Regions from separate parts of the Homo sapiens genome. Here regions 1, 2 and 4 are each reported to be linked to region 3. Evidence: microRNA targets listed by miRTarBase, many of them from high-throughput screens and not tested one by one. Region 3 holds a microRNA gene; each other region holds the end of a gene's coding sequence.

Region 1 (7,834 bases), not on the chromosome of region 3:
AACAAACATTACCGCAAATGAAACACTGTGTAAATATGTGGATTACATCCTGTAAGTACGAAGAGAATGGAAGGCATTTATCTTGTTATTGTCACTGGGGCAGATCCGGAGTCAGCTCTGGGCGGAGATGGATTTACCCTGGAGCTGCTGAAGCTTAAGCTGGGGGCTGCTCAGGAGCCTGGATGTAGAGTAGGAAGCAGTTCTGAGCATGGAGGGGAAGCCAGGTGTGCCAGCCAGAAGCATCCTATGAAAAGAGAGGCCAAAAGGATGAGATGTGAATCTCCAAGCACCACTAGTTAATATGACTTATTTTCATTCTGAATATTCATTTTCATACTTAGAAGTCTATATTCGTAATTTTAGATTAGTTCTCCTACAAAGGGCCTCAAAATTTAGTTCCTACAATACCTGGATCTGCCTCTGATTTTTTTTTGTGTGTGAGACAGAGTCTCACTCTGTTGCCCAGGCGGGAGTGTAGTGGCGTGATCTTGGCTCACTGCAACCTCTACCTCTGGGTTCAAGCGATTCTCCTGCCTCAGCCTCCCAAATAGCTGGGACTACAGACACCCACCACCATGTCCAGCTAATTTTTGTATTTTTGGTACAGCTGGGATTTCGCCATGTTGACCAGGCTGGCCTCAAACTCCTGGCCTCAAGTGATCTGGCTGTCTCGACCTCCCAAAGTGCTGGGATTACAGGTGTGAGCCACCATGCGCCACCACCCACCCCCCACATTGCCCAGCTAATTTTTGTATTTTTAGTAGAGATGGGATTTCACCATGTTGACCAGGCTGGTCTCAAATTCCTGACCTCAAGTGATCCACCTCTCTCGGCCTCCCAAAGTTCTGGGATTACAGGCATGAGCCACCGCGCCCAGAATGCCTCTGATTTTTGAGGTCTACAAAGGTTCGTGTTTTGTTTTGTTTTGTTTTGTTTTGTTTTGAGACAGAGTCTTGCTCTGTCACCCAGGCTGGAGTGCAGTGGCATAATCTCAGCTCACTGCAACCTCTGCCTCCTGGGTTCAAGCGATTCTCCTGTCTCAGCCTCCCGAGCAGCTGAGACTACAGGCGCGCACCACCACGCCCAGCTAATTTTTGTATTTTTAGTAGAGATGGGGTTTCACCATATTGGCCAGGCTGGGCTCAAACTCCTGACCTCGTGATCCACCCACCTCAGTCTCCCGAAGTGCTGGGATTACAGGCGTGAGCTGCCACGCCCAGCCTGGTTCATTCTTCTTTAACATTGTCCTGTGCTGCCTGAGGTTCGTGAAAAATCCTAACATAACGAACACCAAGATGTGGGGCTCTCTGGTTCCCCCTCCACGACAGAACCAGCGGTGGACACGTATTCAGCCTGGAATCTTCTTCCTTCAGGCCTCACCCCCAGGACAGGGAACCCCTCATTCCTGCGCCTGGTCCTGGACCAGCTGCCGAGCCCCTGCTCCCTGCTGCCCCCCAATGGACCTCGGGTAACAAGACACCACGTGTGTGGGGCGTGTTCTCTAGATCCGTTCTCACGATCCTGAAACCATTATTGAGCCTTACAGCTGCTTTAAGCGCCCGGGGCTTCATCAGAGCCTTTGAAAACCCCAGGTGAAACTAGTTACTCACTGGGAAGCCTCGGTGTGTGGCTGCCTTCTCCCTGATACTGCATGCCCGGGCAGCTCTCTGAAGGGCAGCCACAGCCACACGGTTACACAGGGACACACAAACACACGCACATGCACACCTACACACACGCAGGCACTCCCACTCAGCCCCCAGAGATCCATCCACACTCGAAGGAGGCTCAGACAAGAAGTTAAGCTAGCAGAAACAACATCATTGGCTGGGTTAGCTCCTCTCTACAATGGCTTTAGAAACCTGGAATTTTTTTTTAAAGTACAGGCAGGCTGGGCGAGGTGGCTCATACCTGTAATTCCAGCATTTTAGGAGGCTGAAGTGGGGGAGGATCGCTTGAGCCCAGGAGTTCAAGACCAGCATGGGCAATGTAGCAAGACCTCAGGGCATCTCTACAAAAAATAAAAAAATTAGCCGGGCGTGGCAGCGTGCGCCTGTAGTCCCAGCTAGTCAGGAGGCTGAGGTGGGAGGACGGCTTGAGCCCAGGAACTCAAGGCTGTAGTGAGCCATTATTGCACCACTACACTCCAGACAGAGCAAGACCCTGTCTCAAAACAAGTACAGGCACACCCCATTTTATTGCAGTTCACTTTATTGCACGTCAAGATATTGCCTTTTTTTTTTTTTAAACAAATTGAAGGTTCGGGGTAACTCCAGAGTCAAGCAAGTCTATTGGCAACATTTTCCCACGAGCATGTGCCCACTTTGTATCTGTGTGTCACACTTTCGCAATTCTTGCAATATTTCAAACTTCTTCCTTATTATATCTGTTGTGAAGCTGGTTCTCCCAGACGTTCCCTGCAGGCTGTTTATGCAGCGCCCATCCGAGATGAACCCACAGGACACTCAGGATCCCAGACTGCAGGAGTCGTCTGGGATCACAGGCGGGGCAGAGCAATTTGTCAATGTTTATGAGGAGTCCTCCTTGGCAGCCCAGTCTTTATCCTCACTCACGTGGAAATGAGATTCGACCTCTCCTAATCACCTGGTGCCCGAGGAGCAGGTAGGCGCCTGTCCCAAGCCTGAGTTTCCTGGGAAATCTACATTTCAGCACAGATGGGTTCCCAGCAGCTTAGTGCTCTGGCTGTCCTTAGGTCACTGAATCATTTCACCCGCTAGTTTTTTGTTTGTTTGTTTTTGAGATGGAGTCTTGCTCTGTCACCCAGGCTGGAGTGCAGTGGCGCGATCTCGGCTCACTGCAACCTCCACCTCCTGGGTTCAACTGATTATCCCTCCTCAGCCTCCCAAGTAGCTGGGGTTACAGGCACCCGCCGTCATGCCCAGCTAATTTCCATATTTTTGTAGAGACGGGGTTTCACCATGTTGGTCAGGCTGGTCTTGAACTCCTGACCTCAGGTGATCCGCCCACCTTGGTCTCCCGAAGTGCTGGCATTACAGACGTGAGCCACTGCGCCCGGCCTTGCCCACTGGTTTTATGAGAAAGAGACATGGGAGCCTTTTCCCCAGCTGGGGCAATCATCAGACAGTCACATGGAGTCACAGAACCATCTTGCAACAGCATCCCAAGACCTGGCCATTGGGCAGGATGTGGGACTTGTGAAAGGTCATAAATGACCCTTTGAATCAGTCTCCCTCTGCACAGGAAAAGCCCACCGCCCTGCGTTCACCTTTGCCCATCAGATAGGGCTTGGGGGGCACCTGAGGAGGAGGTGCCTGCCACTGCCTGTGGAGGAGGATGTTGGCGTTCCTATTTCACAAGCCCGGCTTGGAGAGCCAGCGGAGACCTTCTGCGCAGCTAGCTCTTGCACACACCCCTGCGGAGAAACTCTGCCTTCTTGCCTGGGGCCCAGAACCTTACCCACCCAGGCTTGCCCCCTCCCTTCCAGGGCCCACTGACCTCCTGACTCAGGCTCCCCCGAGTGCCTGACCCTGTGAGTCACTGGCCCATCTACAATCCTTCTCCCCGTGACTGCTTGAGTTGTAGCTTGATTGGAGCCAGGTCAATGCAAGTCACAGAACTGCGAACTGAGATGGACTCTCAGAAGCAAGAGGTGGCAAGCATGGCGGAGAGGAAGCGAGGGTCCTCCTGGCTGGTTAGATCTTACAGAGTTTAAGCTGTACTGAGAGTTTTTATGAGGACAAGGGGCCAGTCCTGTGCCTGCCTGATGTGGAGTCCTAGGCGGGCTTGGGCCGCAGGTTACCTGCTCCCGGAGGCTCACAAAGGCAGTGCCAACAGGCGCTCATTCTCAGCAATGGGTGAAAGTAAGAGGAACCTGCCCTCCCTCCTCTCCACACCTCCCCAGTATTTGTCCTCATGGAGTAAATATCCAACAGTGATCCCAGGGCATGGGAGTGGGAGTTAAGGCAAATGCCAGACTGTCCAAGGCTCATTACAGGGTAGTCCTCTCATCCTCTGCTCACTAGTCCACTATATTCAGTGAGCACCCACTGTGCACCCTGTGCCTTGGGGACGTGGAGGCACGCTCAGCCCCAGCCTCGCCCTCCGGGAGCTTACAGTCTAACCCTCTGGGCACAGGGAGGTGGGAAGATGGCACGGCCTTGCTGGGAGCCTCACCCTGTTGGCTGAACAATGATTTTTTCAATAATGCCTACAGCTTCCTTCATATCCTGCCACCCAAACCAGTGCCAAGGTCATCATGGGCTTGTGTGGCACAGTCAGATTTAGTGACCATCCCCACTCCCACATTGGTTCTGTCTTCTTGCCCCCGGTGCTCTGGTCCCTAGCACAGGCTGCTGATTTGGGGACTCGGGGGAGAATCCTCCACCTTCTGCAAATGCTTAGCCATGAAATGACGGGTGTTTGCCTGACTATGATTTCATGAATCCCCCATGAAATGATGGGTGTTTGCCTGATTATGGGCCAACAGTGCCCCCCACTCCTCGTGGGCACTCCTGGGATCAGCAGCCCCTTCCTAGCCTTCACAGGGACTCTAGGCCTCCATGGAAAAGAAAGAAATAAAAAATTTTTTTTGAGACAGAGTCTTGCTGTGTCACCCAGGCTGGAGAGCAATGGCTCAATCTTGGCTCACTGCAACTTCAGCCTCCGAGGTTCAAGTGATTCTCTTGCCTCAGCCTCCCGAGTAGCTGGCACATGCCACCACACCCGGCTAATTTTTGTATTTTTAGTAGAGACGGGGTTTCACCATATTGGCTAAGCTGGTCTCGAACTCCTGACCTCAGGTGATCCACCCGCCTTGGCCTCCCAAAGTGCTGGGATTACAGGCGTGAGCCACCGCGCCCGCCCAGAAAGAAAAATCTTAACAAGTTGCTTCCAGTAACCAGTCTCAATGAGTAGCAGGGAGTAGTTTGCAAGAAAAAAAAACAAGTGAAGATGTTTCCCATTCTTTAACCTGCTCCATCCCTCAAATTCCTGCTGCTCCATGGCAGGGGCCCTGCTCACCCCACATTGGCACAGACTCTGCTGGAGTCAGATCCTCCAAAGCCACAAGCTTCCTTGAGGCCACGGGGCCGCCTCATTCTTGTTCTGCCCCTTCCTCACACTGAAAGACTGCATAGCCTGGGGTGCAATGCCCAGGTGTGAAATTGATGCTCGGGAAAACAAATCCTTCCCAAAGTCACTTAAGGAATCCCCCAGCCCCACCGCACAGACCCCTGGATGTATACTGCCCCTATAATTCTGCTCTAGGCAGAAAAGCCTAGGAGTGGAGGTGACAGCTCCCAGCATATGCACCCTTTTGCTCTGCTCTGCTGCCCTGTAGAGCCCTGGAAGTGACCAGAGCCCTTAGGCTACTGCTGCTGCATGCCCAGAGGGTCCCAAGCAGAGCTGGGCAGGAGGTAGGCCCAGGCAGGGCTGGGAGAGCAGTGACCAGGCAGGGTGCACGGCTGCACTTTGCCCAGGTCCTGGCTCTGGCTCTGGTCTGGTGCCAGTGCTGGGGTGGGTGTGTCGGCTGCCCACGCAGCTGCGGGGTCCAGTTCCAGAACTATCTCCACCAGCTGGGATGGGGGGCTTCTTCTTCACCCTGCTGCCTCTTGTCCTTTCTTCTCCAGCCAAGTTGGGGGTGAAGCAGGGACGCTCCTTTTATTCCCTGAGCCGAGCCCCAGCCCCAGGGCTTTCAGTCTGCCACGCCAGTCACAAACAGCCGGCTTCCGGCCTGGGTGTGGGTACTGGGCTGGCCCCTAATGATGGGAACAGCAGCCGCCACCAAGAGCTTCAACCTGTCCAGTGCCCCAAGGTCCCAAGCAGTCGGCAGGGTCTGTGGATCGGCCGAGGGGCTACCACGGCCGCCAGAGGCCAGGGCCGCAGGGAGGCGAGGGCGGCGAGGGCACCGGAGCGGATGCGGGCTCTGGGGCAGACGCGGGCGCTGGGGCGGGGGCAGACGGGCCACTGGAATCCCCAGCGCGCCCGCCGTCCAGGGTGGCGCTGGCCGCTCTCCGCCACAGGTGCTCCAGCAGGCGCGCGCTCACGGCGGGCTCCAGGACACGGCAGGCGGGCAGCACGCGGGCCAGGCGCGCCACACAGGCGCTGTAGCCCTCGCGGTAGCTGTCGCAAGGCACTGCGGGCGGAGAGCCGCGTGAGGCGCGGGGTAGGGTGCCGGGTGCGGGGTGCAGAGCGCGCGGCAGGGCAGGGAGGGCTCACTCACGGGGCGCTGCCGTGGGCCATGAGGACGCAGGCAGCTCCTGCAGGAAGCGCACGGTCATTTCCAGGACGTCTGCCTTCTCTAGCTTCGAGCAGTTGGAGTTCTGCGCCCGGCCACGAGGAAGAGCGACAGAGAACCACCAAGACAGAACTTTGGCCGGCTACCGTGCGCACCCTCGCTCTAGTCGGGAGCTGGGTGTGGGGCGCGCCGTGGCCTGCTGGGGGTCCGCTCCGACGCGCCCACCCCACCCAGGCTCCGCCTCGGGCGCCGCGCGGAACCCCCTGGTGGGTTCCTCCCGCAGGAGCACCCCGTCCCCCTGCCCCCGCTCCGCGCCCCAGGACCCTCTGCCCTCCGCCCGGGCGCGCTCACCTCCCGGCCCAGCAGCGGCAGGATGAGCCCCTTAAGCTGGCTCAGGCTCTGGTTGATGCGCGCGCGCCGGCGCTTCTCCAGCAGCGGCTTCAGGCTCTGCGGACGGGCGGCGCGGTGGTTAGACGGGTCCCCGGAGTCCCCAGCCCCGCCCCCAGTCCCCGGTACCCACCTTGCGCAGCTCCGCCGCGTCCCCTGCCCGGCGAGGCAGCCCCATGCTCCGCGGGGAAGCGGTGGCAGCTGCGAGCCCCACGCAAAGGGAAACCGAGGTCCGAAATGAGGTCCCGGGCGCGGCCCGGGCTGGTGCCAGACGAGTGCGCGCCCCGCCCGCGGCCGAGCTTTAAGGGAGCGGCTCGCCCGCCCCGCCCCGCCCCGCGGAGTCCGGCCGCCCGCTGGTCCCACCTCCTGCCTTTGTTCCTGCGCAGGGTGGAGCCGGGAGGGGAGACCGCGACGCCCCCGGGGATCCCGCTCCCCGCCTTTGCGTCCTGTCTACCGCGGGGTGGCGGCCCCCAGTTTTCCCCGAGCACCTGCGGGAGAGTGGTAAAGGCGCCATCGGGGGCCTTCGCTGCGTGACCCCGAGGGCAGGAGGGCCAGGTGGGGCCAGGCCTTGCCTGACTGGAGCTACGGTCCCTCCTCTCCAATGCTGCCCTTCATTCATTCCCCAGGCTCGGGTTCAGCGTCTTCTCTGAGCCCCGCCCTGGGCCGCAGCAGGGGACCCAGCGGTTACGGGAGCTCCCATGAGGGACAGCAGCGGGAGGGACTTGCACCCCCAGCTGCTTTATCGGGTGAAGGGCTGAGCTGGACGGGAAATCCGAGTTCCGGAGAAAGGTCGTGACTTGCTCCAGTCCTCGACGCTGGGAACAGGCCGAGCCTGGACAAGGGCCCCAGTCGCTGGACGCCCGGCTCTAAGGAGCCCGTAGAACCCTTCGGCGGCTTGCCTAGTTAAGAGTCTTTTGGTTACCCCACTCCAGGCTTTGGGTGGGGAAACGGAATCCTAGAGAAGCAGAGGCAGCCCTGGAGCCCTCGGAGCTCGTTTTCATTCCCACCGGCTAGGGGTCCGGGTTCTCGCCCGCAAGACAGTCAGGGCTCATGTGACGCGCGGGCAGGACAGTTTTGGGTGCGGGCCCCAGTGGCCCGCCCAGGACCGCCTTCGCGCCGCGTGGCCGTTGCTGCGGCAAACTGGCTGGCGTCCCCCGCCCATCTGCTCCGGGCTCCCCTCCCCCGACCGGCTGGCGGGGCAACGGCCACGCCCGCGAACCACACTGCGAA
Region 2 (7,816 bases), not on the chromosome of region 3:
GGTGGGTCTCCTGTTTCCTACAATCTTAGTCGCCTCCTGAGAAAGGATAAACCTTTGGGTTCTTATCTGAAAATGCCTTAGTTTATCCTAATTGATTAATAGTTTAGCTGGGTGTGGCATTCTAAGTTGGAAATCATTTTCTTGGATAATTTTGAAGGAACTGTCATCTTCTAGCTTTTAGTGCTGCTGTGGCAAAGACGAATGCCAATTTTATTCCTGATGTCAGCCTAGTGTGGGGATTTGTATCTTCATATTTTGAGTACTTGTTGGGCCTTTTTAGTCTTAATAAGCAAATTTCTTCAGTTCTCAAAATTTAAAAAATACCATTTCTTGGCCGGGCGCAGTGGCTCATGCCTGTAATCCCAGCACTTTGGGATGCCAGGGTGGGCGGATCACCTGAGGTCAGGAGTTCAAAACCAGCCTGACCAACAAGGTAAAACCCCTGTCTCTACTAAAAATACAAAAATTAGCCGGGTGTGGTGGCGTGCACCTATAATCCCAGCTCGTCAGGAGGCTGAGGCAGGAGAATCACTTGAACCCGGGAGGCGGAGGTTGCAGTGAGCCGACATTGCGCCACTGTACTCCAGCCTGGGGGAACAGAGCGAAACTCTGTCTCAAAAACAAAACAAAAAACCATTTCTTACATCATTTTCACCCTCTGTATTCTTCCTTTTCTCTTTCTGTAGTCAAGATATTGGACCTGATTAATTCCTTCTCTTATTCATTCACTTATTTTTATTTTATTTTCTGAGACAGGGCCTTGCTCTGTTGCTTAGGCTGGAGTGCAGTGGCCCAGTGACAGTTCACAGAAGCCTTGACTTCCCAGGCTCAAGTGATCCTCCCACCTCAGCCTCCCAAGTAGCTGGGACCACAGGTGCACGCCACCATGCTCGGCTAATTTTTTTTTGAGACAGGTTTCACTCTGTCACCCAGGTTGGAGTGCAGCAGTGCGATCTCTGCTCACTGCAGCCTCTGCCTCCCAGGCTCAAGTGATCCTCCCCCTTCAGCCTCCTGAGTAGCTGAAGGCACATACCAGCATGCCCGGCTAATTTTTTGTATTTTTGGTAGAGACAGGGTTTCACCTTGTTGCCCAGGCTTGTCTCAAACTCCTAAGCTCAGGCAATCCTCCCACCTCAGCCTCCAAAAGTGCTATAGGATTACAGGCATGCGCCACCACATCCTGGTGTTTTTTTGTTTTTGTTTTTTTTAATTGGATAGATTTTCAGCCAGGCCTCCTGCCTTAGCCACACCTTCATTCCATTTCCCCTGGCAAGGGCAACCAGTTCCTTGGCCTTTGGGAATGAGATTTATATATGTTAGGTTGTTTTATCCGCTGCCCAGTTTAGGATTTTCGCTTTTGGGGTGTGCTGAGTCAGTTAGCACTCATTTACCTCTCCCCAGCTTCCAAAATGCTATTGAAGGCCTTCTCATTCTCTTTTTCCTTGTGGGTTTACACCTTTAAAGTTTAAACAAAAACTTTAGTGTTTTTTTTTTTTTTCCTTTGAGATGAAGTCTCACTCTGTCGCCCAGGCTGGGAGTGCAGTGGTGTGATCTCAGCTCACTGCAACCTCCGCCTCCTCAGCCTCCCGAGTACCTGGGATTACAAGCATGCACCACCATGCCTGGCTAATTTTTTGTATTTTTAGTAGAGACAGGGTTTCATCATGTTGGTCAGGCTCGTCTTGAACTCCTGACCTCAGGTGATCTGCCCGTCTCAGCCTCCCAAAGTGCTGGGATTACAGGCATGAGCCTCCATGCCGGGCTTCGTGTCATTTTAGTGGGGTTTCAGGAAAAAGCACGGGGCAAATGCGTGTGTGCAATCTGCTACCATCTATAACTGGAAATCTTCCACACTAATATTGATTTGCCCTTTTCACTTATTTAGGGTTCCTAAGACTTTGGAATTTCTTGGTATTCATTCCTCATCCTTAGGGAATGCAGAATTCTAACAAACTTCTGTGGGATAGATATGCCATCACTCACACACTGGTCTTTACTAATTTAGACCCTTAGTGTTATACATGGCTCATATGAAGAGTAAAGGGGAGCCTGTCGGTAGCTAGGCCCACATGTGTGCATGCCTCCTGGGCTGATGGCTGAATTGCCATTTGCTTCTTATATGACAAGCTCTTAGTGTATGTGCCCATTATCAGAGATATCACGGGCTTCAAAGGTCCAAGCTTGGCCATCCATTCCACTCTTTTCATCATACCCTTTGTGTTCTGACTTTGAAGCTTTTCTAGGTCTTAACATTTTCTTTCTTTGTTTTTCTGTAGGATCATGGATTTTCCTGGTCACTTTGAACAAATCTTCCAGCAGCTGAACTACCAGAGACTTCATGGCCAGCTCTGTGATTGTGTCATTGTAGTGGGGAATAGACACTTTAAAGCCCACCGCTCCGTGCTGGCAGCATGCAGCACGCATTTCCGAGCCCTGTTCTCAGTGGCAGAAGGAGATCAGACCATGAACATGATCCAGCTGGATAGCGAGGTGGTGACAGCAGAGGCCTTTGCTGCACTGATTGACATGATGTATACCTCCACCCTCATGCTGGGGGAGAGCAATGTAATGGATGTCTTATTGGCAGCCTCTCACCTGCATTTGAACTCTGTTGTTAAGGCATGTAAACATTACTTAACGACAAGGACGCTGCCCATGTCTCCCCCCAGTGAGCGCGTTCAGGAGCAGAGCGCCCGCATGCAGCGCTCCTTTATGCTACAGCAGCTGGGACTAAGCATCGTGAGCTCAGCCCTCAATTCCAGCCAGAATGGCGAGGAGCAGCCAGCCCCCATGAGCTCTTCCATGCGCAGTAACCTGGATCAGCGCACGCCCTTCCCCATGAGACGCCTTCATAAGCGCAAGCAGTCTGCAGAGGAGCGGGCCAGGCAGCGCCTCCGACCCTCCATAGATGAGTCTGCCATTTCAGATGTTACACCGGAGAATGGGCCTTCAGGGGTTCATTCTCGGGAGGAGTTCTTTTCACCAGATTCTCTGAAAATTGTGGATAATCCTAAAGCTGATGGAATGACTGATAACCAGGAAGATAGTGCGATCATGTTTGATCAGTCTTTTGGCACTCAAGAAGATGCCCAGGTGCCCAGCCAGTCTGATAACAGTGCTGGCAACATGGCACAGTTGTCCATGGCCTCTCGTGCAACTCAGGTTGAGACTAGTTTTGATCAGGAAGCTGCACCTGAGAAAAGTAGTTTTCAGTGTGAAAACCCTGAGGTTGGCCTTGGTGAGAAGGAGCACATGAGAGTGGTGGTTAAATCTGAGCCCCTGAGCTCACCTGAGCCTCAGGATGAAGTGAGCGATGTGACCTCACAAGCAGAAGGCAGCGAGTCTGTGGAAGTGGAAGGAGTTGTGGTCAGTGCCGAGAAGATAGACCTCAGCCCTGAAAGCAGTGATCGGAGTTTTTCAGATCCCCAGTCTAGCACAGACAGGGTAGGTGATATCCATATTTTGGAAGTCACAAATAACCTAGAGCATAAGTCCACTTTTAGTATTTCGAATTTTCTTAACAAGAGCAGAGGAAATAACTTTACTGCAAATCAGAACAATGATGATAATATTCCAAACACCACTAGTGACTGCAGGCTGGAGAGTGAGGCCCCCTATTTGTTGAGTCCAGAGGCTGGGCCTGCAGGTGGGCCCTCCTCTGCCCCTGGCTCCCATGTAGAGAACCCATTTAGTGAACCTGCAGACTCCCACTTCGTCAGGCCTATGCAGGAGGTGATGGGCCTGCCGTGTGTGCAGACTTCAGGCTACCAAGGAGGAGAACAGTTTGGGATGGACTTTTCCAGGTCTGGTTTGGGCCTCCACTCCTCCTTCTCCAGGGTAATGATAGGTTCCCCAAGGGGAGGAGCCAGTAACTTTCCTTACTACCGCCGCATAGCTCCCAAAATGCCAGTTGTAACTTCCGTCAGGAGCTCACAGATCCCAGAAAACTCTACCAGTTCTCAGCTAATGATGAATGGAGCTACGTCCTCATTTGAAAATGGCCATCCTTCCCAGCCTGGCCCTCCACAGTTGACCAGGGCATCTGCAGATGTTCTGTCAAAGTGCAAGAAGGCCTTATCAGAGCACAATGTTTTGGTTGTAGAGGGAGCTCGCAAGTATGCCTGCAAAATCTGCTGCAAAACTTTTCTGACTTTGACAGATTGCAAGAAGCACATCCGTGTTCACACAGGTGAAAAGCCTTACGCCTGCCTGAAGTGTGGCAAGAGGTTTAGTCAGTCCAGCCACCTGTATAAGCACTCAAAGACTACCTGCCTGCGCTGGCAGAGCAGCAATCTTCCCAGCACTTTGCTCTAGCTGTTTGTCCTTACAAGACAACGCTGAGGCCAGTTGTCAGACTGAATTTCTTTTGGTAAGCAGTTAATGCCTTTGGGTTCGAGGCTTCCAGCTGCCCAGTGGCTCTTAAACAGTTTAGCAACTAATAACCGGAGAACTAACATGTAGTATTTGTGCTGCTGCATTTCTGAGTGAAGTGCACGTCTTGGGAAAGGGATGCAATCCCTGAAACCAGGTGCTTCCTTGGGGTTGAGTAATGCAGTCAGAAAGTAGTTTGTAATTGATATTAAAAGTGGCACATTTAAAAATTTAAAAATTGAAGTGCAAAAAAAATTTTTTAGCAATTTTTGTAAAACTGTGTAGCATTTAAATTTCCTATACCTTCTGATGGGAGTATTATATCCCTGTATAGTGATGCAAAATGCACTTATGTGTAACCAGTGGTGATTTGGTGCCTGTCTTAAAGGAAGGCCTTTGAGGACACACCTGTCTGCCACAAATGCTTTAAAGTGTATCATGAGCTAGTCCTAGGCCTCAAAGTACTGTATTTTTTATTTTTACCTGATTTGCAGTCATAAACACTGCACTTTGGTGCTGACACTGGGTCCAGAGTGAGCATTCTCTTGGACTATTAGATGTATATACTTTTGAATACATCACTGTTGGATAGATGTTTTAACAGTTTTTTCTGGTTTAAAAACCAAATTGTAAATGGAGTGTGTACTTGTAGAGAGTGACAAGGTATTGTTTCCCTATGTGCTGTTTGAGCAGTATTTTAACCAACTTGTATTACAGATGTTACAGTTCCATGTTAGGAAGTCAGAAAAGACTTGTGTTTGTCTTTGTTCTGCTGATGTGGAGTCATGTTTTGTGGGGTCTTCCATGGCACATTTACCTGTTGCTCCGTCCAGATGTTGAGGGCCAGTCTAGGCTGACACATCCTACCCGAGGACAAGCCTGTTCTCCATTTCTTCACTCTCCCCTCCCCATATAGCAACTCTCCCAGGTTTAGATTACCGTTTTCGACGACAGATTAACCAAAAATGCCCCACACAGGTTTTATTACTGTTATATACTATACTTTTAACAGTACAGACCCTAAATTTTATTATTTGTTGCTCCCCCAATCTGATACCAAATGTTTAAAGTTGTTTGAAATCCAAACATGGTAGTGTTCATGGGTAAATATTTTCTAGGCTATGTAAGAGTTAGCAGCCCATAGCATAGAAGTAATCAAGTAGCATCTGAGACTGTTGGAGGCACTAGGGCCTCTCTGGGCCCTACAGCCTCACTTCCCCAGCCTCACCTTGCTGTCCTCTGACACTGCCATCAGGGCTGTTAGTGGCACCTGTATGAGGCCAAGTGTGCGTCCAGGGGAACAGCACAGGTTAATGCGTCTCCCTAGAACTCATGAAGTCAGTTTAATTCATGCATGAACATGAGTTCATTTTATGTTTTATATAGCTTTCTTAGACATACCAAACCATCATTCATAAATCAGATAAATTATTCAGTTTTTGTGTTTAGAAAGCTAAGTATGTGTAGCTGGAAACAAAAATGAGCGTGTTTTCTCTCCTGTTAATCTAGAGTGTGCAGTTACACATGTGTGGATAATTTCATGTTCCAGGGGCGCTTGGCATCTCCCATGGACTGATTCCCAGGAAGAAAAGCCCAAAGGGAAACCCACGATTCCTTTCGAGTAGATGTGGGAAAGAGCCCATTGGAGGATATGAGGTCCTGTGAAATTCAGTTGTGTGTGTGGCTCCTTGTTAGCAGTCATGTTGACATGGTGTTAGGAGGCTCCCCATCCACCCTTTACATGATGTAGGGACCAGTGTCTTGTGAGATTAACCTTGGGACACAGTGGGTTAGCCTGGAGAAAATGAGAGGCCCTGCCTGGACCCAGGGAGAGGAGCCAGTGACACAGGCAGAGCGGTGCAGCCCTCCTTCCCTTCCATTTGGAGGAGGTGGTGCCAGGAGCCTGCCCGCTTACCTCTGCTGAAGCATAAGTGGACTTTGCTTTTGGGGCTTATCTCTGATACATGCTGGAGCCCTGCCTCTCCACTGCTAGATGGAACCTGGAATCTCTCATCTACCTCTTAGTCTGTCAGTTTCTACGTGTGAGAAGCAAGCTTGTGGGCCAGTGTCCTTGTACATGCTGTAGCACTTAAAAAATAATTCCAGGGTTCCCTGGAAAACCAGTCCCAGGGTTCCTATGATCTGTAGTTTCTACCTGGATTATAACTGGTTTTGGGTACCTGAATTTTGATTGGTTAGCCTTAATTATAGTCTGGCGTGATCATGTAGAATCTTTTCTGGTGAACAGATCATAAAGTTCTATCAAGGAGTTCTATCAAGGCATCCATGTCAGTGGTGCTATGCTGGTTACAACTTGAGATTTTTGAAATAAAAAATTTGTCATATTCATGCCTCTAAATATGTGTTCTTTTTCTTTACGTTATTAAGGTTGAAACCAAAGAGGGTAATATCTCTTTGCCAGCCCTTCTTTGACTAGTACTTTGTTTTAAACCAAACCTTCTATTAACAGTTAATTGGTCGTTCCTCTCAAATCATTCCCTTCTGCCTTCCCCCGCCTTTTCTGTCTTTGAGCTACGCACATGCATGAGATTTTGCTTTTCAGTCTACCCAGTTGCTCTCTGAGGGCCTGCGTAATCTTGTGCTGCTCCCTGGACCTGCCTCCCAAGTTGGAAACTCCATCTGCCAGTTTGGCTTGGCTGCTGGGAAGAGCTGGAAGCTGATTCCTTGAGCACAGAGCAAGGCATTGGCAATGGCAGTGCTGTGGCCTGACCTTGGAGAGAAGTGGGTAAGGTGGTGATTAAAAAAAAAAAAAATCCACCTGGGGGCAGGGAGGGGCTGGGGGGACAGAATGGGCAAAGGGAACAATATGTGTAGGTGCTGAAACTAATTTTAAAATTAAACCCACCTACCTCTAATCGTTCTGACCAAAATAAGAGTTACGTCCTTACCTAGTTCTCATTTCTTCCAGTTAACTCCTTTTCTGGAAGTGCTCCTTAATTTTCCTGATGGTCTAGGTATCAAGATTCAAGTGCCATGGTCACAACTGGGTTCTGTTTGTCCCGTCCTTGGTGAGGGACAAGTGAAGGAATCTGGGCAGAGAAGATGAGGGGTAAGGTGGTTTGGACACGTTCCAATAAGGAAAATGCCCAGGGCTGAGGGCTGGGGTGGGAAGCAGAGCCAGGCAGATCATTGGATGCTGTGACTTTGAAACATGCTCTTTGTATTTTTAAAGTTTTTTTTGAAACGGTGTCTTGCTACATTGCCCAGGTTAAGTGTAGTGGTGATTTAAAGAGTGATCATAGCACACTGCAGGAAACGGTATCTTGCTACATTGCCCAGGTTAAGTGTAGTGGCGATTTAAAAAGAGTGGTTATAGCACACTGCAGCCTTGAACTGGCCTCAAAGGATCCTTCCCGCTCAGCCTCCTGAGTTGCTGGGACTATAGGGGTGCGTCACCATGCCCAGCCATATCCACTTGTTAGCT
Region 3 (7,834 bases):
TTGACACAGCACATCTCACACTCACTCATCCTGCCAGGACCAGCAGGCTCACAGCCTTCCCAGCCACACAGCCAACTGGACTCTTCTCCCCACTCTTATGGACTTGCCACCTGCAACAATCACTTAACACTTACCTCACTCTGCTTTTTCTCATTAACCAGTTTTTGGCAGCCCTACAGCATCTAGAACAGTGTTGTACACGTAAGTAAATATTTGTTTTGAGGTTTCATTTTTTAAATGCATTGTTCAGCAAAACCGGCGACTCCAGTGTCCAGGTAACAAGCACGTCCCTCCAGAATGAGAATCCAGACTCCCCATGTCCTCTGCTATATTCATCAGCATAGCCTCTTCCTCCTCTCCCAAACACACCATTCCTGCTGTGGCCTCAAACATTCTTTCCAGGTGCCCAAACTCTCACAGCTGCTCTGCCCCATCAACCCTGTTCCCTAATCATCCGGGTCTGCTCAGGGCCTCGCTCCCCACCTCTGGCATCACTCCGCCCTGTTTCCATCACTAGTGCCTCCATAATTTCCTGTAGTGCGAAAACAAGAAGTAACTTTAAAGAGCAGTGTCACCAGCTTTGTAACAAACACTCTGGTACATGCACATCCATGACCATCTTTTCCCAGGTCACACTCTGCACTAGGAATCTGTGTCCTGGATTAGGATTCTAGGATCTTCTGGCTGCCTCAAACCTCTACCCAAAATTTCTGGGCCTTTAACAGCCACTAGGTTTCCTGGCAAGAAACTGGTTATTGTTTCTCCCTGTGAGGAGACCCTAAAGGCCAACAAACTCTACTCTCCTCCCAGAGGTTAAGTAGACAGGCAGGCCCACCTCACTCTACCACCCAGGCTCCCCTAGAGCCAGCCTATTTGCTACCTGGTAGGCCAGTATTCAAATCCTGATTCCAATCAATGGGGGGGGGACCTTGGCAATTTGGTAAAATTCAGTCAGCATGTAATGAACAAGTGCCTCCTCTCGTTCTAAAGGATCAGGGGCTCTCATAGCAAGGTCCCCAGACCAGCAGCATCAGCATCACCTGGGAACTTGTGAGAAGTATAAATTCTTGGGCCCACTGTAGACCTGCTGAATCAGAAACGCTGAAGGTAGGGCAAACAACTTGTGTTTTAACAAGTCCTCCAGATTATTCTGATGTGTGCTCAAGTTTGAGTTCCACTGACTTAGGCCCTGGGGATATAAAAAAAAAAATGAAAAACCCATAATCTAAACTATCAGTTCTTAGCCCTGGCTGCAATTAAAATAAGCTGGGGAGCTTTTAAAATAATACCAGTCTGGGCCCCATCCCAGACCAATTTCATTAGAATTTCTAGGTGTGGGGAAGTCATCACAATGCAATATACTGAGTGCAAAGACTGTAACAGGGTATGCAGGCAAGTGAGAAGGGATCCTGCAGTAAGGAGATGAGGACAAGCAGCTGCACCATCTGTGCCTCCATTTTCTCATCTGTAGAATGGGGAATGTAACAGTCCCTTGAAGGACTATTGAGAATTACATAAAATGATATAAGGAAATGCCCAGTATATAGCAGATGCCCAGTGTTCATCACTTCCCTTCTTTCTCCAGAATGGGCCCCTGGTTGACTCTGAGTTGAGCAGCTGGGCTGCTGTGTTTAGAATGTCCCCTACACTGGTCCCTCATCAAGGACCCTTCCCCACCAAGAAAGAAAACTTCATGACTGTTCATAGTTTGGGGCAAGAGTTCTCTTCAGCAGCCATCTCCATAATCCCAGCATCTTGATTCGCTGTCCTTAAAAACAGGCTGGGTCCCTTGGAACCAGACTTTCCCTATAAGACAGCTCACAGTGCAGACCCCAGACCTCTAACACCCCCACACCCTTTCAAAGAACACCTATTTTTTAAATTTTATTTTCCATAAGTTATCGGGGTACAGGTGGTATTTGGTTACATGTGTAAGTTCTTTAGTGGTGATTTGTGAGATCCTGGTGCACCCATCACCCAAGCAGTACACCCTGCACCATATCTATAATCTTTTATCCCTTGCCCCCCTCCCACTCTTCCCCACAAGCCTCCAAAGTCCACTGTATCATTCTTATGCCTTTGTGTCCTCATAGCTTAGCTCCCACATATCAGTGAGAACACACGATGCTTGGTTTTCCACTCCTGAGTTACTTCACTTAGAATAATAGTCTCCAATCTCATCCAGGTCATTGCAAATGCTGTTAATTCATTCCTTTTTAGGGCTGAGTAGTATTCCATCATATGTATATACCACATTTTCTTTATCCACTCATTGATTGATGGGCATTTGGGTTGGTTCCACAATTTTGCAATTGTGAACTGTGCTGCTATAACCATGCGTGTGCAAGTATCTTTTTCAAGTAATGACTTCTTTTCCTCTGGGTAGATACCCAGTAGTGGCATTGCTGGATCAAATGGTGGTTCCACTTTTAGTTCCTTAAGGAATCTCCACACTATTTTCCACAGTGGCTGTACTAGTTTACATTCACACCAGCAGTGTAGAAGTGTTCCCTGATCACCGCATCCACGCCAATGTCTACTGTTTTTTTGTTTTCTTATTATGGCCATTCTTGCAGGAGTAAGGTGGTATTGCACTATGGTTTTGATTTGCATTTCCCTGATCATTAGTGATGTTGAGCATTTTTTCATATGTTTGTCGGCCATTTGTGTATCTTCTTTTGAGAATCGTCTATTCATGTCCTTAACCCACTTTTTGATGTAATTGTTTGTTTTTTTCTTACTGATTTGTCTGAGTCCGTTGTAGATTCTGGATATTAGTCCTTTGTCAAATGTATAAATTGTGAAGATTTTCTCCCACTCAGTGGGTTGTCTGTTTACTCTGCTGACTGTTCCTTTTGCCATGCAAAAGCTCTTTAGTTTAATTAGGTCCCAGATATTTATCTTTGTTTTTATTGCATTTGCTTTTGGGTTTTCGGCTATGAAATCCTTGCCTAAGCCAATGTCTAGAAGGGTTTTTCAAATGCTGTCTTCTAGAATTTTTATAGTTTCAGGTCTTAAGTCTTTAATCCACCTTGAGTTGATTTTTGTATAAGGTGAGAGATGAGGATCCAGTTTCATTCTTCTACATGTGGGTAGTCAATTATACCAGCACCATTTGTTGAAAAGGGTGTCCTTTCCCTACTTTATGTTTTTGTTTGCTTTGTCAAAGATCAGTTGGTTGTAAGTATTTGGGTTTATTTCTGGGTTCTCTATTCTGTTCCATTGGTCTATGTGCCTATTTTTATGCCAGTATCACGCTGTTTTGGTGACTATAGCCTTATAGTATAGTTTGAAATCAGGTAGTGTGATACCTCCAGATTTAATCTTTTTGCTTAGTCTTGCTTTGGCTCCATGGGCTCTCTTTTTGGTTCCAAATGAATTTTAGAATTGATTTTTCTAACTGTGTGAGGAACGATGGTGGTATTTTGATGGGGATTGCATTGAATTTGTAGCTTGCTTTTGGCAGTATGGTCATTTTCACAATATTGATTCTACCCATCCATGAGCATGGGATGTGTTTCCATTTGTTTGTGTCATCTATGATTTCTTTCAGCAGTCAAAGAACACCTCTTTAAAGCAACTTGATAAAGGCCATTTTAGTTATACTAGGAACATGTTGTCCTATTCCGGCTGCCCTGAAACTCTTTTTGCCTGTGGTTCCAGGCAAGCAGACAGGCTCAGGATGAGATCTCTGGACTCAGGTAGCCCTCCCTGATGCAGGATTTGTCAGTATCCAAACTCCTTCTCCAGGAACATGTGAACGATAGGGGACTTGGCAATAGCCCCAGATTCCTCTAGCGCCTCCCTCCCCATAAGGCACAGGAGTGGGTCTGCAATCACAGGCAGTGCCCTGGGTGGGCCCTCCACAATGCCACAGATCCTGACCTGTGGCCTCCTGAATTGAAGACAGAAATGAGGGCTGTCCTTGTTAGCTACCTCCGGGGCTCTGTGCTTATTCTAGCAGACACTAAACATTTTTGAACTTCTGAAAACAGCCTCGACTGTCGTTCTAAATTTAAAAACAAGCAAACTGTTTCATTACTTAATAGACAAACCTTGTGTTGTGTTTTTTTGAGGTGGGGGAGAGAGGAAGGTTGTTGTTTTGTTTTTTAAACTAAAATACTGTCACCCAGCTTGCCCAGATTTGATTCCCTCTTCCCCAGATTTTCCCGAATGGAGTTGGGCTGTTTCCAAAAACCAAATTAGTATTCAAAAACAGTTCTGAAGTTTTAATCACCACTAAGGATATATTTTTTTTAATTTTTAAATTTAAAAAATAAAAAGTAACCCCGCACCATCAGATCAATTGGCTGTTCCCAGAATGCAGATCCACAGTTGGAACACAGGCAGCATCCCTGGCATGAGCTGCCTCAAGGCCGTGCTGTGAGGAGAGTAACCCTCATCTGGAAGTGGTCAGTGAGGCAGTCAGTCATGCTATCACCTACTAAGTGCCTCAGAAACCAAATTCCAGAGGACAGAGAGGAAGATGGATTTGACTTCAGAGAAAACAGTGTAAATGCCCCAGCAGGAGGAACCAGAACAACTCCCAAAGAGACAGGGGCTGCCAGGGGAGAATTTGTGTCTTCAGAGGTTAAGGTCTGGTCTAGTTCCCTGCCTCTGACCCACAAAGCTCTCATGAAAGAACTTGGAATGTGAGACGGGGCAAAAATCCCTGCCAAAACAGCCATGAAGGAGCCAGAAAAATGAAGGTGCCACAAAGCTTTTCCCCAATTCTCTGAGTTACAAGGCCCTGGTTCCTTCCCAGACACAACAAAGTCACCTTCTCCTGGCCTCATCATCCTCCTCTTCCTTCCCCAAGTCCTGCCGTGTGTAAAAGAAGATCTCTGCCCAGGCTGACCAGAGGAGAGTAAGGTATTTTCTTCCTGGCTTTGCACATTCATTCAGCCTTGAAAAGCTCAGGCCAGGAAAGAAGTCCAGGAGTATGTGTTGTGCGGTGCTGCAGTGCTCACTTCCCAGTGATGGAGGCTCCCTCTCACTAAGTTTCTTCTCCTCCCATCAGTGTTCTCACCGGCTCGGGTTCTAGGCTCTGGGCACTTGAAGTGATGATTGAGCTTCCCTCACAAACCTTAGGAAAATGTGGCCCCAAACTAAGCATTACTAATGCACAGCTTTGCTCATCAAGACATGTCCACCTGGGGCTCCAACAGGGTAGAGGAGGCTGGAGGGATAGGAAAGTGGTTGTGTAATTCAGGCAGCACCCAGTCATCAGCACTAATGATGGAAAGAGATACTGGGTTGTTGAAATGATGGATAATCAATATTCCAGAATAATGGATATTGTTTGTTAGGAGACAACATGATTCTTGGCAGCTGAGTTGTCTTCTTAAAGATCTACTTGTAAAAAACAGCCACATGAAAAGAAGACTGTTCCAGATTTAAAACTGACCATATAATACACATACGGAAAAAAAGTGAGAACTGGCTATGTGGGGAAGACATGGAGGAAGTTAGAGCTCAGAGGGACTTATGACATCATTTCCCCCATTTTACAGAGGAGGAACTAAGGTCCAGGGAAGCGAACAGATTGCCTTGTGTCACATAATTATTTGGTGGAAAAGCCAGAAATGGGCCTGGGTTGTCTAAACAGGGCACTGTTCACTTGGCCACAGTAGTCCAAGGGCTTCACCTGGAAAAGAACCATCATTCTAAGCATGTGATGCTGACCTCCCGGCAGTGGCTGCTTCTGTAATCACCACAATTTCCCAACACACAAGTCACCTCATGTGTTCCTACACCCTGATGTCACAGCTGCCACTGAGAGCCCTGAGCCAAGTACCATGATGATTCATAAATCACTGCCCAATTCTTTAAAGTCACAGCATTGTCTTTGTCAACAGCACCTTATGTGATTCTAATCAGTAGCTGCCATCAATTTCATCAAGTTCAAGTACAATCTTACTTCTTAGTATTTGGGTGGCCCTTTTAATGTTTTTCAAAAACTCCTTGATAGCTTATACCTCACTTTATGTTCACCAGACCCCATGGGTCAAAGGTAGAGGAGTGACTGGAAGGTCTATTTCATATACTCCTTGAAGAACTGACCTGTAAGTAAACACAGTTGGTAACTGGGGCTGAGAGACTATAGCAGAGGACTCCTGAGTCACAGACTCCAGTTCTTTCCAGAGCAAGTTGGAAGCAGGAAAAATATGCTAAAATTCACAAGAAGTTTCAGGGGCAAGAACCTTAAGAATATTATCTGTTAACCTTCAGACATATAGAAGACACTGGGGTCTGTGGCAAATTACTCAGCATCACACTTCAGCAATCTCTCTTCCTTTTCTTTGCTTTTTCATTAAAGCATAACTTGCACAAAGTATACAAATCATAAGGGTACAGCTGGGTGAATTTCTGCATATGTTATACACTAATATAATCACCAGACCAAGATTTAGAACATTTACAGCTACCCAGAAGGCTCCCTCATGCCCCCTTCCAGTCAAGAATAGCTATTATTCTGACCTCTGTCCCACACATTAGGTTTGTTTGGTCATATAAGTGGGAGAATACAATATGTATTCTCTTATGTCTGGCTTCCTTTCGCAATCTTCTAAGATGCTTCTATACTATTAGAGTGCCAATAGTGCGCTCTTTATCTTTTCTGTATAACATTCTGTGGCGTTGATATACAATGTATTTATCCATTCTACTGTTGTTGGAAACAACATTTTGGTTGTTTCCAGTTTGAGGCTGTTATGAATAAAGCTGATATGAACATTCTTGTACATGCTTTTGTTTTTGTTTTTAGATGGAGTTCAAATCTATTGGGTATATCCAGGTGTAGAATTATGGGTTCATGGGGTGTGCATAATAGATATCATGAAAATTCTCTTTAAAGTGCTGTATAAATATACACTCCCACCAGCAAAGTAAGTTCCAGGAACTCCATAGTCTCAACAAAACTTGATATTATTGGTAAATAGTCATTTTTAAAGTATCACTGGAAAAGACGGTACCCCATGTATGTTTCCAGATAACTGATGTTAGTCTTTAAGCAGTTTTTAAAAAAAATCTAATAATTTTACTTCTTGAAAATAGTAAACTACCTAACCATTGCAGACTACACTGAGAAGTTCAGAGAGCTCTGAATATACATTTAACATATTCAGAGATATACTAAATATCTAAGGATTTCACTCTCTCCTCCTTCATGGGTAGATATCACTAAGGTATCAGCAGCCCAGAGCACCTCCCTCTAATCTCTGTCCTGGAAAATATTAAAGACGGCCCAATCAGGAACTTTAATTTATACACTACCATAGGTCAATAAGTTCTGGTCACATGGGCTTTCCACTAGAAAGGCTATTTCTATGTCCTGAATGGTAAAAGTTGTCCCCAAAATAGGTAAGTGAGTTGTTATTCATTTCACTTGCTTTTATGTGGCTTGGCAAATGTTAATCAGTTATCAAACAATACACATTTATAAAGCACATATTCTGTTACCGAGCTAGACATTCTGGAAGTTCCTTGAAGGGGCAGGGCTCCAGAACACATCACATGGAATGTTGTCATCTGCCTTCTTTTTCTCACTTTACCCATCCAACCCCTTTCACAGATGAAATGAGGTTAAAACAAACTTCACTGATGACCTTGGCTTTAGAGGGGAAAGCAAGGCCCAAAAGAGGTTTCCTGGGGAATGAAAACAGAAGAAGGGAGAACAGCCCTGCCCATAGGGCCATGGTGATAGAGTGAATGGGTGATTGAAGGCGACGTGATTATTACAACCTCTGGTCTTCTTTACAACAGAAGACCAAGCTCTATCTTATCCTTTATCCAACCTCCACCCATCATGAACTTCCTTCTCCCTTGCCTCTTG
Region 4 (7,834 bases), not on the chromosome of region 3:
GCAGTGAGCGGAGATCATGCCACTGTACTCCAGCCTGGGCAACACAGCGAGACTCCGTCTCAAAAAAAAAAAAAAAAAAAAAAAAAAGAATTGATTCCAGGCCAGGCGCAGTGGCTCAACCCTGTAACCCCAGCACTTTGGGAGGCTGAGGCGGGCAGACCACTTGAGGTCAGGAGTTCCTGACCAGCCTGGCCAACATGGTGAAACCCCGCCTCTACTAAAAATACAAAAATTAGCGAGGCGTGGTGGCGCAAGACTGTAGTCTACTCAGGAGGCTGAGATAGGAGAATTGCTTGAACCTGGGAGGCGGAGGTTGCAGTGAGCCGAGAGATCACACCACTGCTATCCAGCCTGGGCGACAGAACGAGACTCCATCTCAAAAAAACCAAACAGACAAACAAACAAAAAAAGAATTGATTCCACTGATTTAGACAAAAGGAATCTCAAACCTGTACAACTTACAAAACACCACTGTGGACTGTCAGCCACCATGACAGCTGAACACAACCGTCATTTTAATACTACAATTTAGTCCAAGAGCTACGTGGAGCCCTTTTATCATTACTGGTCTAACTCAATCTTTGAAATCCTCTTTACAATCTTTAGCAAATTTTGTTGATTTCTTGCATTACAGTGTGATGTTAGTCCTTATAAAACTAATTCATAACCATGATTTCCTTTTTAAGTAACTGATCTTTCTTTCTTCCGTATTTTCCTTCAGGTGTGAAGTGGGTTATACTGGTGTCCGATGTGAACACTTCTTTTTAACCGTCCACCAACCTTTAAGCAAAGAATATGTGGCTTTGACCGTGATTCTTATTATTTTGTTTCTTATCACAGTCGTCGGTTCCACATATTATTTCTGCAGATGGTAAGTCAGTGTGGTTTTATACTCTGCTTTTACAAATTACTTTTACATAATGCAGACCTATAAACTGGGTAAAAATATGGATAAAGTATTAGAGAGATAAGATCAAACCTGTACAAATGATATTTACAAGAGTTGAGAAACTATTAAGTATTATGCCCAACACCTGAGTGATGGGATCAGCTGTACCCCTAATCTCAGCATCATACAATATATCCTGTTAAGAAACCTGCATGTGTACCCCCGAATCTGAAATAACTTGAAATTATTTTTTAAAAATATGTTTTTGCTGCAGAACATCTGGATTGAACTTTATTATCAGCTCTGATACTTATTACCTATGTGACCTTACATAAGTCAAATTGAGAGTATCAATTCCCTTCTTTATCAAATATGGACAGAAATTATTATCTTACATTAGTTATAGGGTGGTTGCTTTTAGTATGTAATATGATATTTCATGTGAAAGTAAATCATAGGATAGGTGCTACTGTTATAGTTAACCACCTGAATTTAATTCCTCAAGTCACATTTTTTATTTTATAAAAAACAACCTTGTAAATTAATAACCTTAGAAGCTTGGGTTATCTTACAGTTTAAGGCAGACTGGTGGAACTATTTCTAGACAATTATAAAAAATGGTTGTTAAAAAATAGTTTGTGTCAGTCCCCCAAAACAGTCGTACCTCATCCTCATGTGCATTATTGTCACAAGCTGAAAACAGAAAAATAGAAAGTGAACATTGAAAGTATAGTTTGGCATTTTTTTAAGGGTTAGGAGCAAAGGATGGGAACAGTGTGAATTAATTAATAACAGTTCCCTTTAAAATGTCTCCATGAAACATATTTTGAAACAGTTACAAATTACTCAAGGTGAATTTACGTTTTTATTTTTCTGTGAAAGTAGTGCACTTCCAATTTTGAAGGTCTGAAAGTGTGCTACTTTCATAATATTAAATTTATTTTGTCCACATTTGATTCTAAGTATCCATCAAATAATAATGCCTTCCTAATAAGTTGCCATGACAGAACTAAATATTATTAAAACTGAAATATGCCTGCAAATCTTTGACCACAATCCTTTCCTTTATAGATGGGGCACTGAGGTTTAGAGAGGTTCATTCAAATATCCCAGCTCATATAGTTGACAAATGCCAGAGTGAAGAACAAATTCTTTCTAATTCATATTCTTACAGTAAACATAGACATGATGTGGTTTCCTCAAAGCTACATGTCTTATTTCCAAAATAGGGACAAAATAAACTCAAAAATATTAGGAAAATAGCTTAATGAATAAATGAAAGAAGATTCTAAATTATGATAAATCTATGAATCCTAGCTATGAGACCTTGGACCTTGGGCACATTATATACAACCCATTTGTATTTCACTTTCTTCATCTGTAAGATGAGGATGGTAACAGCAAATGTGAGAGTAAAATAAATAATGCATGTATAGCACTTAGAAAATTGTAGGTCACCAAATTAGTGCCTGATAAATATTATTTTTATTTTGATTAGTGATAGCATTATATCAATGTGATGGAAAGAGTGTATTAATGTAGCATGATTTGTAAATATTCATTCCTTAGAAGGGAGGAAGGAAAAAGAAAGAGAGACAGAAAAAGAAAACCTAAAATTCAGACTTAAATGTGGCCACACGCCTCTTGGAATTTCACAATATTCATGATCACGTTAAAGACTTTGAGAAACTCTTTAAGTGTATTTTATCATTTCATTCCAAAATTGTTTGACTACAGCACATCACCTCTTCATCCCTCTTTTTTTTTTTTTTTTTAACATTGTCCAACCTAAATCTGTTCAACTTTGTCATTTTGGAAACACTATGCTAATGTGCCTTTGGAGTCCATATATAACACACTTGTTCCTTTGCTATTAACTGCAGTGCTAACAGTTTCGTTTGTGAATATTTCCAGGTACAGAAATCGAAAAAGTAAAGAACCAAAGAAGGAATATGAGAGAGTTACCTCAGGGGATCCAGAGTTGCCGCAAGTCTGAATGGCGCCATCAAACTTATGGGCAGGGATAACAGTGTGCCTGGTTAATATTAATATTCCCATTTTATTAATAATATTTATGTTGGGTCAAGTGTTAGGTCAATAACACTGTATTTTAATGTACTTGAAAAATGTTTTTATTTTTGTTTTATTTTTGACAGACTATTTGCTAATGTATAATGTGCAGAAAATATTTAATATCAAAAGAAAATTGATATTTTTATACAAGTAATTTCCTGAGCTAAATGCTTCATTGAAAGCTTCAAAGTTTATATGCCTGGTGCACAGTGCTTAGAAGTAAGCAATTCCCAGGTCATAGCTCAAGAATTGTTAGCAAATGACAGATTTCTGTAAGCCTATATATATAGTCAAATCGATTTAGTAAGTATGTTTTTTATGTTCCTCAAATCAGTGATAATTGGTTTGACTGTACCATGGTTTGATATGTAGTTGGCACCATGGTATCATATATTAAAACAATAATGCAATTAGAATTTGGGAGAAGCAAATATAGGTCCTGTGTTAAACACTACACATTTGAAACAAGCTAACCCTGGGGAGTCTATGGTCTCTTCACTCAGGTCTCAGCTATAATTCTGTTATATGAGGGGCAGTGGACAGTTCCCTATGCCAACTCACGACTCCTACAGGTACTAGTCACTCATCTACCAGATTCTGCCTATGTAAAATGAATTGAAAAACAATTTTCTGTAATCTTTTATTTAAGTAGTGGGCATTTCATAGCTTCACAATGTTCCTTTTTTGTATATTACAACATTTATGTGAGGTAATTATTGCTCAACAGACAATTAGAAAAAAGTCCACACTTGAAGCCTAAATTTGTGCTTTTTAAGAATATTTTTAGACTATTTCTTTTTATAGGGGCTTTGCTGAATTCTAACATTAAATCACAGCCCAAAATTTGATGGACTAATTATTATTTTAAAATATATGAAGACAATAATTCTACATGTTGTCTTAAGATGGAAATACAGTTATTTCATCTTTTATTCAAGGAAGTTTTAACTTTAATACAGCTCAGTAAATGGCTTCTTCTAGAATGTAAAGTTATGTATTTAAAGTTGTATCTTGACACAGGAAATGGGAAAAAACTTAAAAATTAATATGGTGTATTTTTCCAAATGAAAAATCTCAATTGAAAGCTTTTAAAATGTAGAAACTTAAACACACCTTCCTGTGGAGGCTGAGATGAAAACTAGGGCTCATTTTCCTGACATTTGTTTATTTTTTGGAAGAGACAAAGATTTCTTCTGCACTCTGAGCCCATAGGTCTCAGAGAGTTAATAGGAGTATTTTTGGGCTATTGCATAAGGAGCCACTGCTGCCACCACTTTTGGATTTTATGGGAGGCTCCTTCATCGAATGCTAAACCTTTGAGTAGAGTCTCCCTGGATCACATACCAGGTCAGGGAGGATCTGTTCTTCCTCTACGTTTATCCTGGCATGTGCTAGGGTAAACGAAGGCATAATAAGCCATGGCTGACCTCTGGAGCACCAGGTGCCAGGACTTGTCTCCATGTGTATCCATGCATTATATACCCTGGTGCAATCACACGACTGTCATCTAAAGTCCTGGCCCTGGCCCTTACTATTAGGAAAATAAACAGACAAAAACAAGTAAATATATATGGTCATATACATATTGTATATATATTCATATACAAACATGTATGTATACATGACCTTAATGGATCATAGAATTGCAGTCATTTGGTGCTCTGCTAACCATTTATATAAAACTTAAAAACAAGAGAAAAGAAAAATCAATTAGATCTAAACAGTTATTTCTGTTTCCTATTTAATACAGCTGAAGTCAAAATATGTAAGAACACATTTTAAATACTCTACTTACAGTTGGCCCTCTGTGGTTAGTTCCACATCTGTGGATTCAACCAACCAAGGACGGAAAATGCTTAAAAAATAATACAACAACAACAAAAAATACATTATAACAACTATTTACTTTTTTTTTTTTCTTTTTGAGATGGAGTCTCGCTCTGTTGCCCAGGTTGGAGTGCAGTGGCACGATCTCGGCTCACTGCAACCTCACCTCCCGGGTTCAAGAGATCCTCCTGCCTCAGCCTCCTGAGCAGCTGGGACTACAGGCGCATGCCACCATGCCCAGCTAATTTTTGTATTTTTAGTAGAGGCGGGGTTTCACCATGTTGGCCAGGATGGTCTCAATCTCCTAACCTTGAGATCCACCCTCCACAGCCTCCCAAACTGCTGGGATTACAGGTGTGAGCCACCGCACGTAGCATTTACATTAGGTATTACAAGTAATGTAAAGATGATTTAAGTATACAGGAGGATGTGAATAGGTTATATGCAAGCACTATGCCCTTTTATATAAGTGACTTGAACATCTGTGCCCGATTTTAGTATGTGCAGGGGGGCGATCTGGGAATCAGTCCCCTGTGGATACCAAGGTACAACTGTATTTATTAACGCTTACTAGATGTGAGGAGAGTCTGAATATTTTCAGTGATCTTGGCTGTTTCAAAAAAATCTATTGACTTTTCAATAAATCAGCTGCAATCCATTTATTTCATTTACAAAAGATTTATTGTAAGCATCTCAATCTTGGTTTGTCAGTTTATCTTAAGCATGTCAATTCATAAAAACAAGTCATTTTTGTATTTTTCATCTTTAAGAATGCTTAAAAAAGCTAATCCCTAAAATAGTTAGATCTTTGTAAATGCATATTAAATAATAAAGTATGACCCACATTACTTTTTATGGGTGAAAATAAGACAAAAATAATAGTTTTAGTGAGGATGGTGCTGAGTAAACATAAAAACTGATTTGCTCTCAGCTGATGTGTCCTGTACACAGTGGGAAGATTTTAGTTCACACTTAGTCTAACTCCCCCATTTTACAGATTTCTCACTATATATATTTCTAGAAGGGGCTATGCATATTCAATGTATTGAGAACCAAAGCAACCACAAATGCATAAATGCATAATTTATGGTCTTCAACCAAGGCCACATAATAACCCAGTTAACTTACTCTTTAACCAGGAATATTAAGTTCTATAACTAGTACTCAAGGTTTAACCTTAAAATTAAGATTTCCTTAACCTTAACCTTAAAATTGATATTATATTAAACATACATAATACAATGTAACTCCACTGTTCTCCTGAATATTTTTTGCTCTAATCTCTCTGCCGAAAGTCAAAGTGATGGGAGAATTGGTATACTGGTATGACTACGTCTTAAGTCAGATTTTTATTTATGAGTCTTTGAGACTAAATTCAATCACCACCAGGTATCAAATCAACTTTTATGCAGCAAATATATGATTCTAGTGTCTGACTTTTGTTAAATTCAGTAATGCAGTTTTTAAAAACCTGTATCTGACCCACTTTGTAATTTTTGCTCCAATATCCATTCTGTAGACTTTTGAAAAAAAAGTTTTTAATTTGATGCCCAATATATTCTGACCGTTAAAAAATTCTTGTTCATATGGGAGAAGGGGGAGTAATGACTTGTACAAACAGTATTTCTGGTGTATATTTTAATGTTTTTAAAAAGAGTAATTTCATTTAAATATCTGTTATTCAAATTTGATGATGTTAAATGTAATATAATGTATTTTCTTTTTATTTTGCACTCTGTAATTGCACTTTTTAAGTTTGAAGAGCCATTTTGGTAAACGGTTTTTATTAAAGATGCTATGGAACATAAAGTTGTATTGCATGCAATTTGAAGTAACTTATTTGACTATGAATGTTATCGGATTACTGAATTGTATCAATTTGTTTGTGTTCAATATCAGCTTTGATAATTGTGTACCTTAAGATATTGAAGGAGAAAATAGATAATTTACAAGATATTATTAATTTTTATTTATTTTTCTTGGGAATTGAAAAAAATTGAAATAAATAAAAATGCATTGAACATCTTGCATTCAAAATCTTCACTGACAATGCAGCCTCATTCTTTTTTTTTCTTTTGCAATTTTTTCCCCACAATACATTAAAGGGTTTAAAAGCAGTGACAGGGATATAATGTGTGTAGACATAATGACTCAATGGTGTTAATTTGGGAAAACATTCTATAAATGTATCACGTTTTATAGCCAGCATAGTGAAGAATTTCTTGTAATAGAAGGAGCCACATTAGTTATAAAATTCTAGGTGTTGGTATTTAAAAATCCTAGGAGTTAGGATTGATTGATTGATTGATTGATTGATTGATTTTGAGATGGAGTCTCACTCTATTGCCCAGGCAGGAATGCAGCGGCACGATCTCGGCTCACCACAACCTCCGCCTCCTGGGTTCAAGCGATTCTCCTGCCTCAGCCTCCCGGGTAGCTAGGACTACAGTCACGTGCCACCATGCCCGGCTAATTTTTGTATTTTTAGTAGAGACAGGGTTTCACCATGTTGGCCAGACTGGTCTCAAACTCATGACCTTGTGATCTTCCCGCCTCCGCCTCCCAAAGTGCTGGGATTACAGGCATGAGCCACCATGCCCAGCCTGGGGTTAGTATTTTTTAAAATAATATTTTAAAGAGTATTTTAAAAGAGTATTTCTAAAAAGAATAGATATCCTATTGGGAAGTAGCATTTGAAAAGATTCATCAGCCAGAATGGTGCCTTATGATTCTCTCAGCCTCTGCAAAGAGGCTTGGCTCCCCTGAGCCTTTAGAGCAGACAAGCTTGATTCTTCCCACCCTTCATCACAGTGATGGATGGCTTCCTTGGTATACTTATTCAGCAGCCTACAGAGTACTTGCTCCATTCCTTAGCTCCTTGGATCCTTCATTAGCTTGCAGCTGGGGAAGGGACCTATGGCTTCAACCCTTTGACAGGGAGGTTAAGCAATTGTCCTGGGTCACACCACTGGCAATAGGTGGAGGTGTCATGAGAATTCAGGTCTTCTCACTCCTAATTCCACTGATGTTCGGGCCATGTCAGAG

The links. Region 3 holds the annotated microRNA hsa-miR-5002-3p (UGACUGCCUCACUGACCACUU, at 4,408-4,428, opposite strand). A microRNA usually pairs through its seed, bases 2 to 8, with sites in the 3' UTR of a target mRNA and lowers its output. Matches are read on the target gene's strand: a 7mer-m8 pairs with bases 2 to 8, a 7mer-A1 pairs with bases 2 to 7 and ends in A, and an 8mer does both.
Region 1: miRTarBase lists HES2 as a target of hsa-miR-5002-3p. Seed matches in the 3' UTR shown: 7mer-A1 at 3,547-3,553.
Region 2: the mRNA of ZBTB5 is a reported target of hsa-miR-5002-3p. Seed matches in the 3' UTR shown: 7mer-A1 at 4,552-4,558, 7mer-A1 at 4,862-4,868 and 7mer-A1 at 6,066-6,072.
Region 4: the mRNA of EREG is a reported target of hsa-miR-5002-3p. Seed matches in the 3' UTR shown: 7mer-A1 at 4,608-4,614.

Annotation. Positions count from the first base shown.
Region 1 is chr1:6,413,039-6,420,872 of GRCh38, forward strand. HES2 (hes family bHLH transcription factor 2) reads right to left here and starts at 6,881. Exons shown (of 4, transcript NM_019089.5): 1 at 6,738-6,881; 2 at 6,569-6,664; 3 at 6,203-6,302; 4 at 2,194-6,115. The coding sequence starts at 6,782. The coding sequence ends at 5,835. RefSeq lists enhancers at 1,055-1,556, 1,557-2,056, 1,581-1,820.
Region 2 is chr9:37,437,016-37,444,831 of GRCh38, reverse strand. It overlaps ZBTB5 (zinc finger and BTB domain containing 5), which reads left to right. Exons shown (of 2, transcript NM_014872.3): 2 at 2,277-6,730. The coding sequence starts at 2,281. The coding sequence ends at 4,314. It also overlaps a transcript of GRHPR not described here. Among named protein-coding and RNA genes, the nearest start is that of GRHPR, 18 kb to the right of the region's middle.
Region 3 is chr3:124,129,582-124,137,415 of GRCh38, reverse strand. MIR5002 (microRNA 5002) reads right to left here and starts at 4,487; the gene lies at 4,391-4,487. All of the region lies in intron 1 of KALRN (kalirin RhoGEF kinase), which reads right to left.
Region 4 is chr4:74,381,924-74,389,757 of GRCh38, forward strand. EREG (epiregulin) reads left to right here. Exons shown (of 5, transcript NM_001432.3): 4 at 722-871; 5 at 2,804-6,826. The coding sequence ends at 2,885. Among named protein-coding and RNA genes, the nearest start is that of EREG, 21 kb to the left of the region's middle.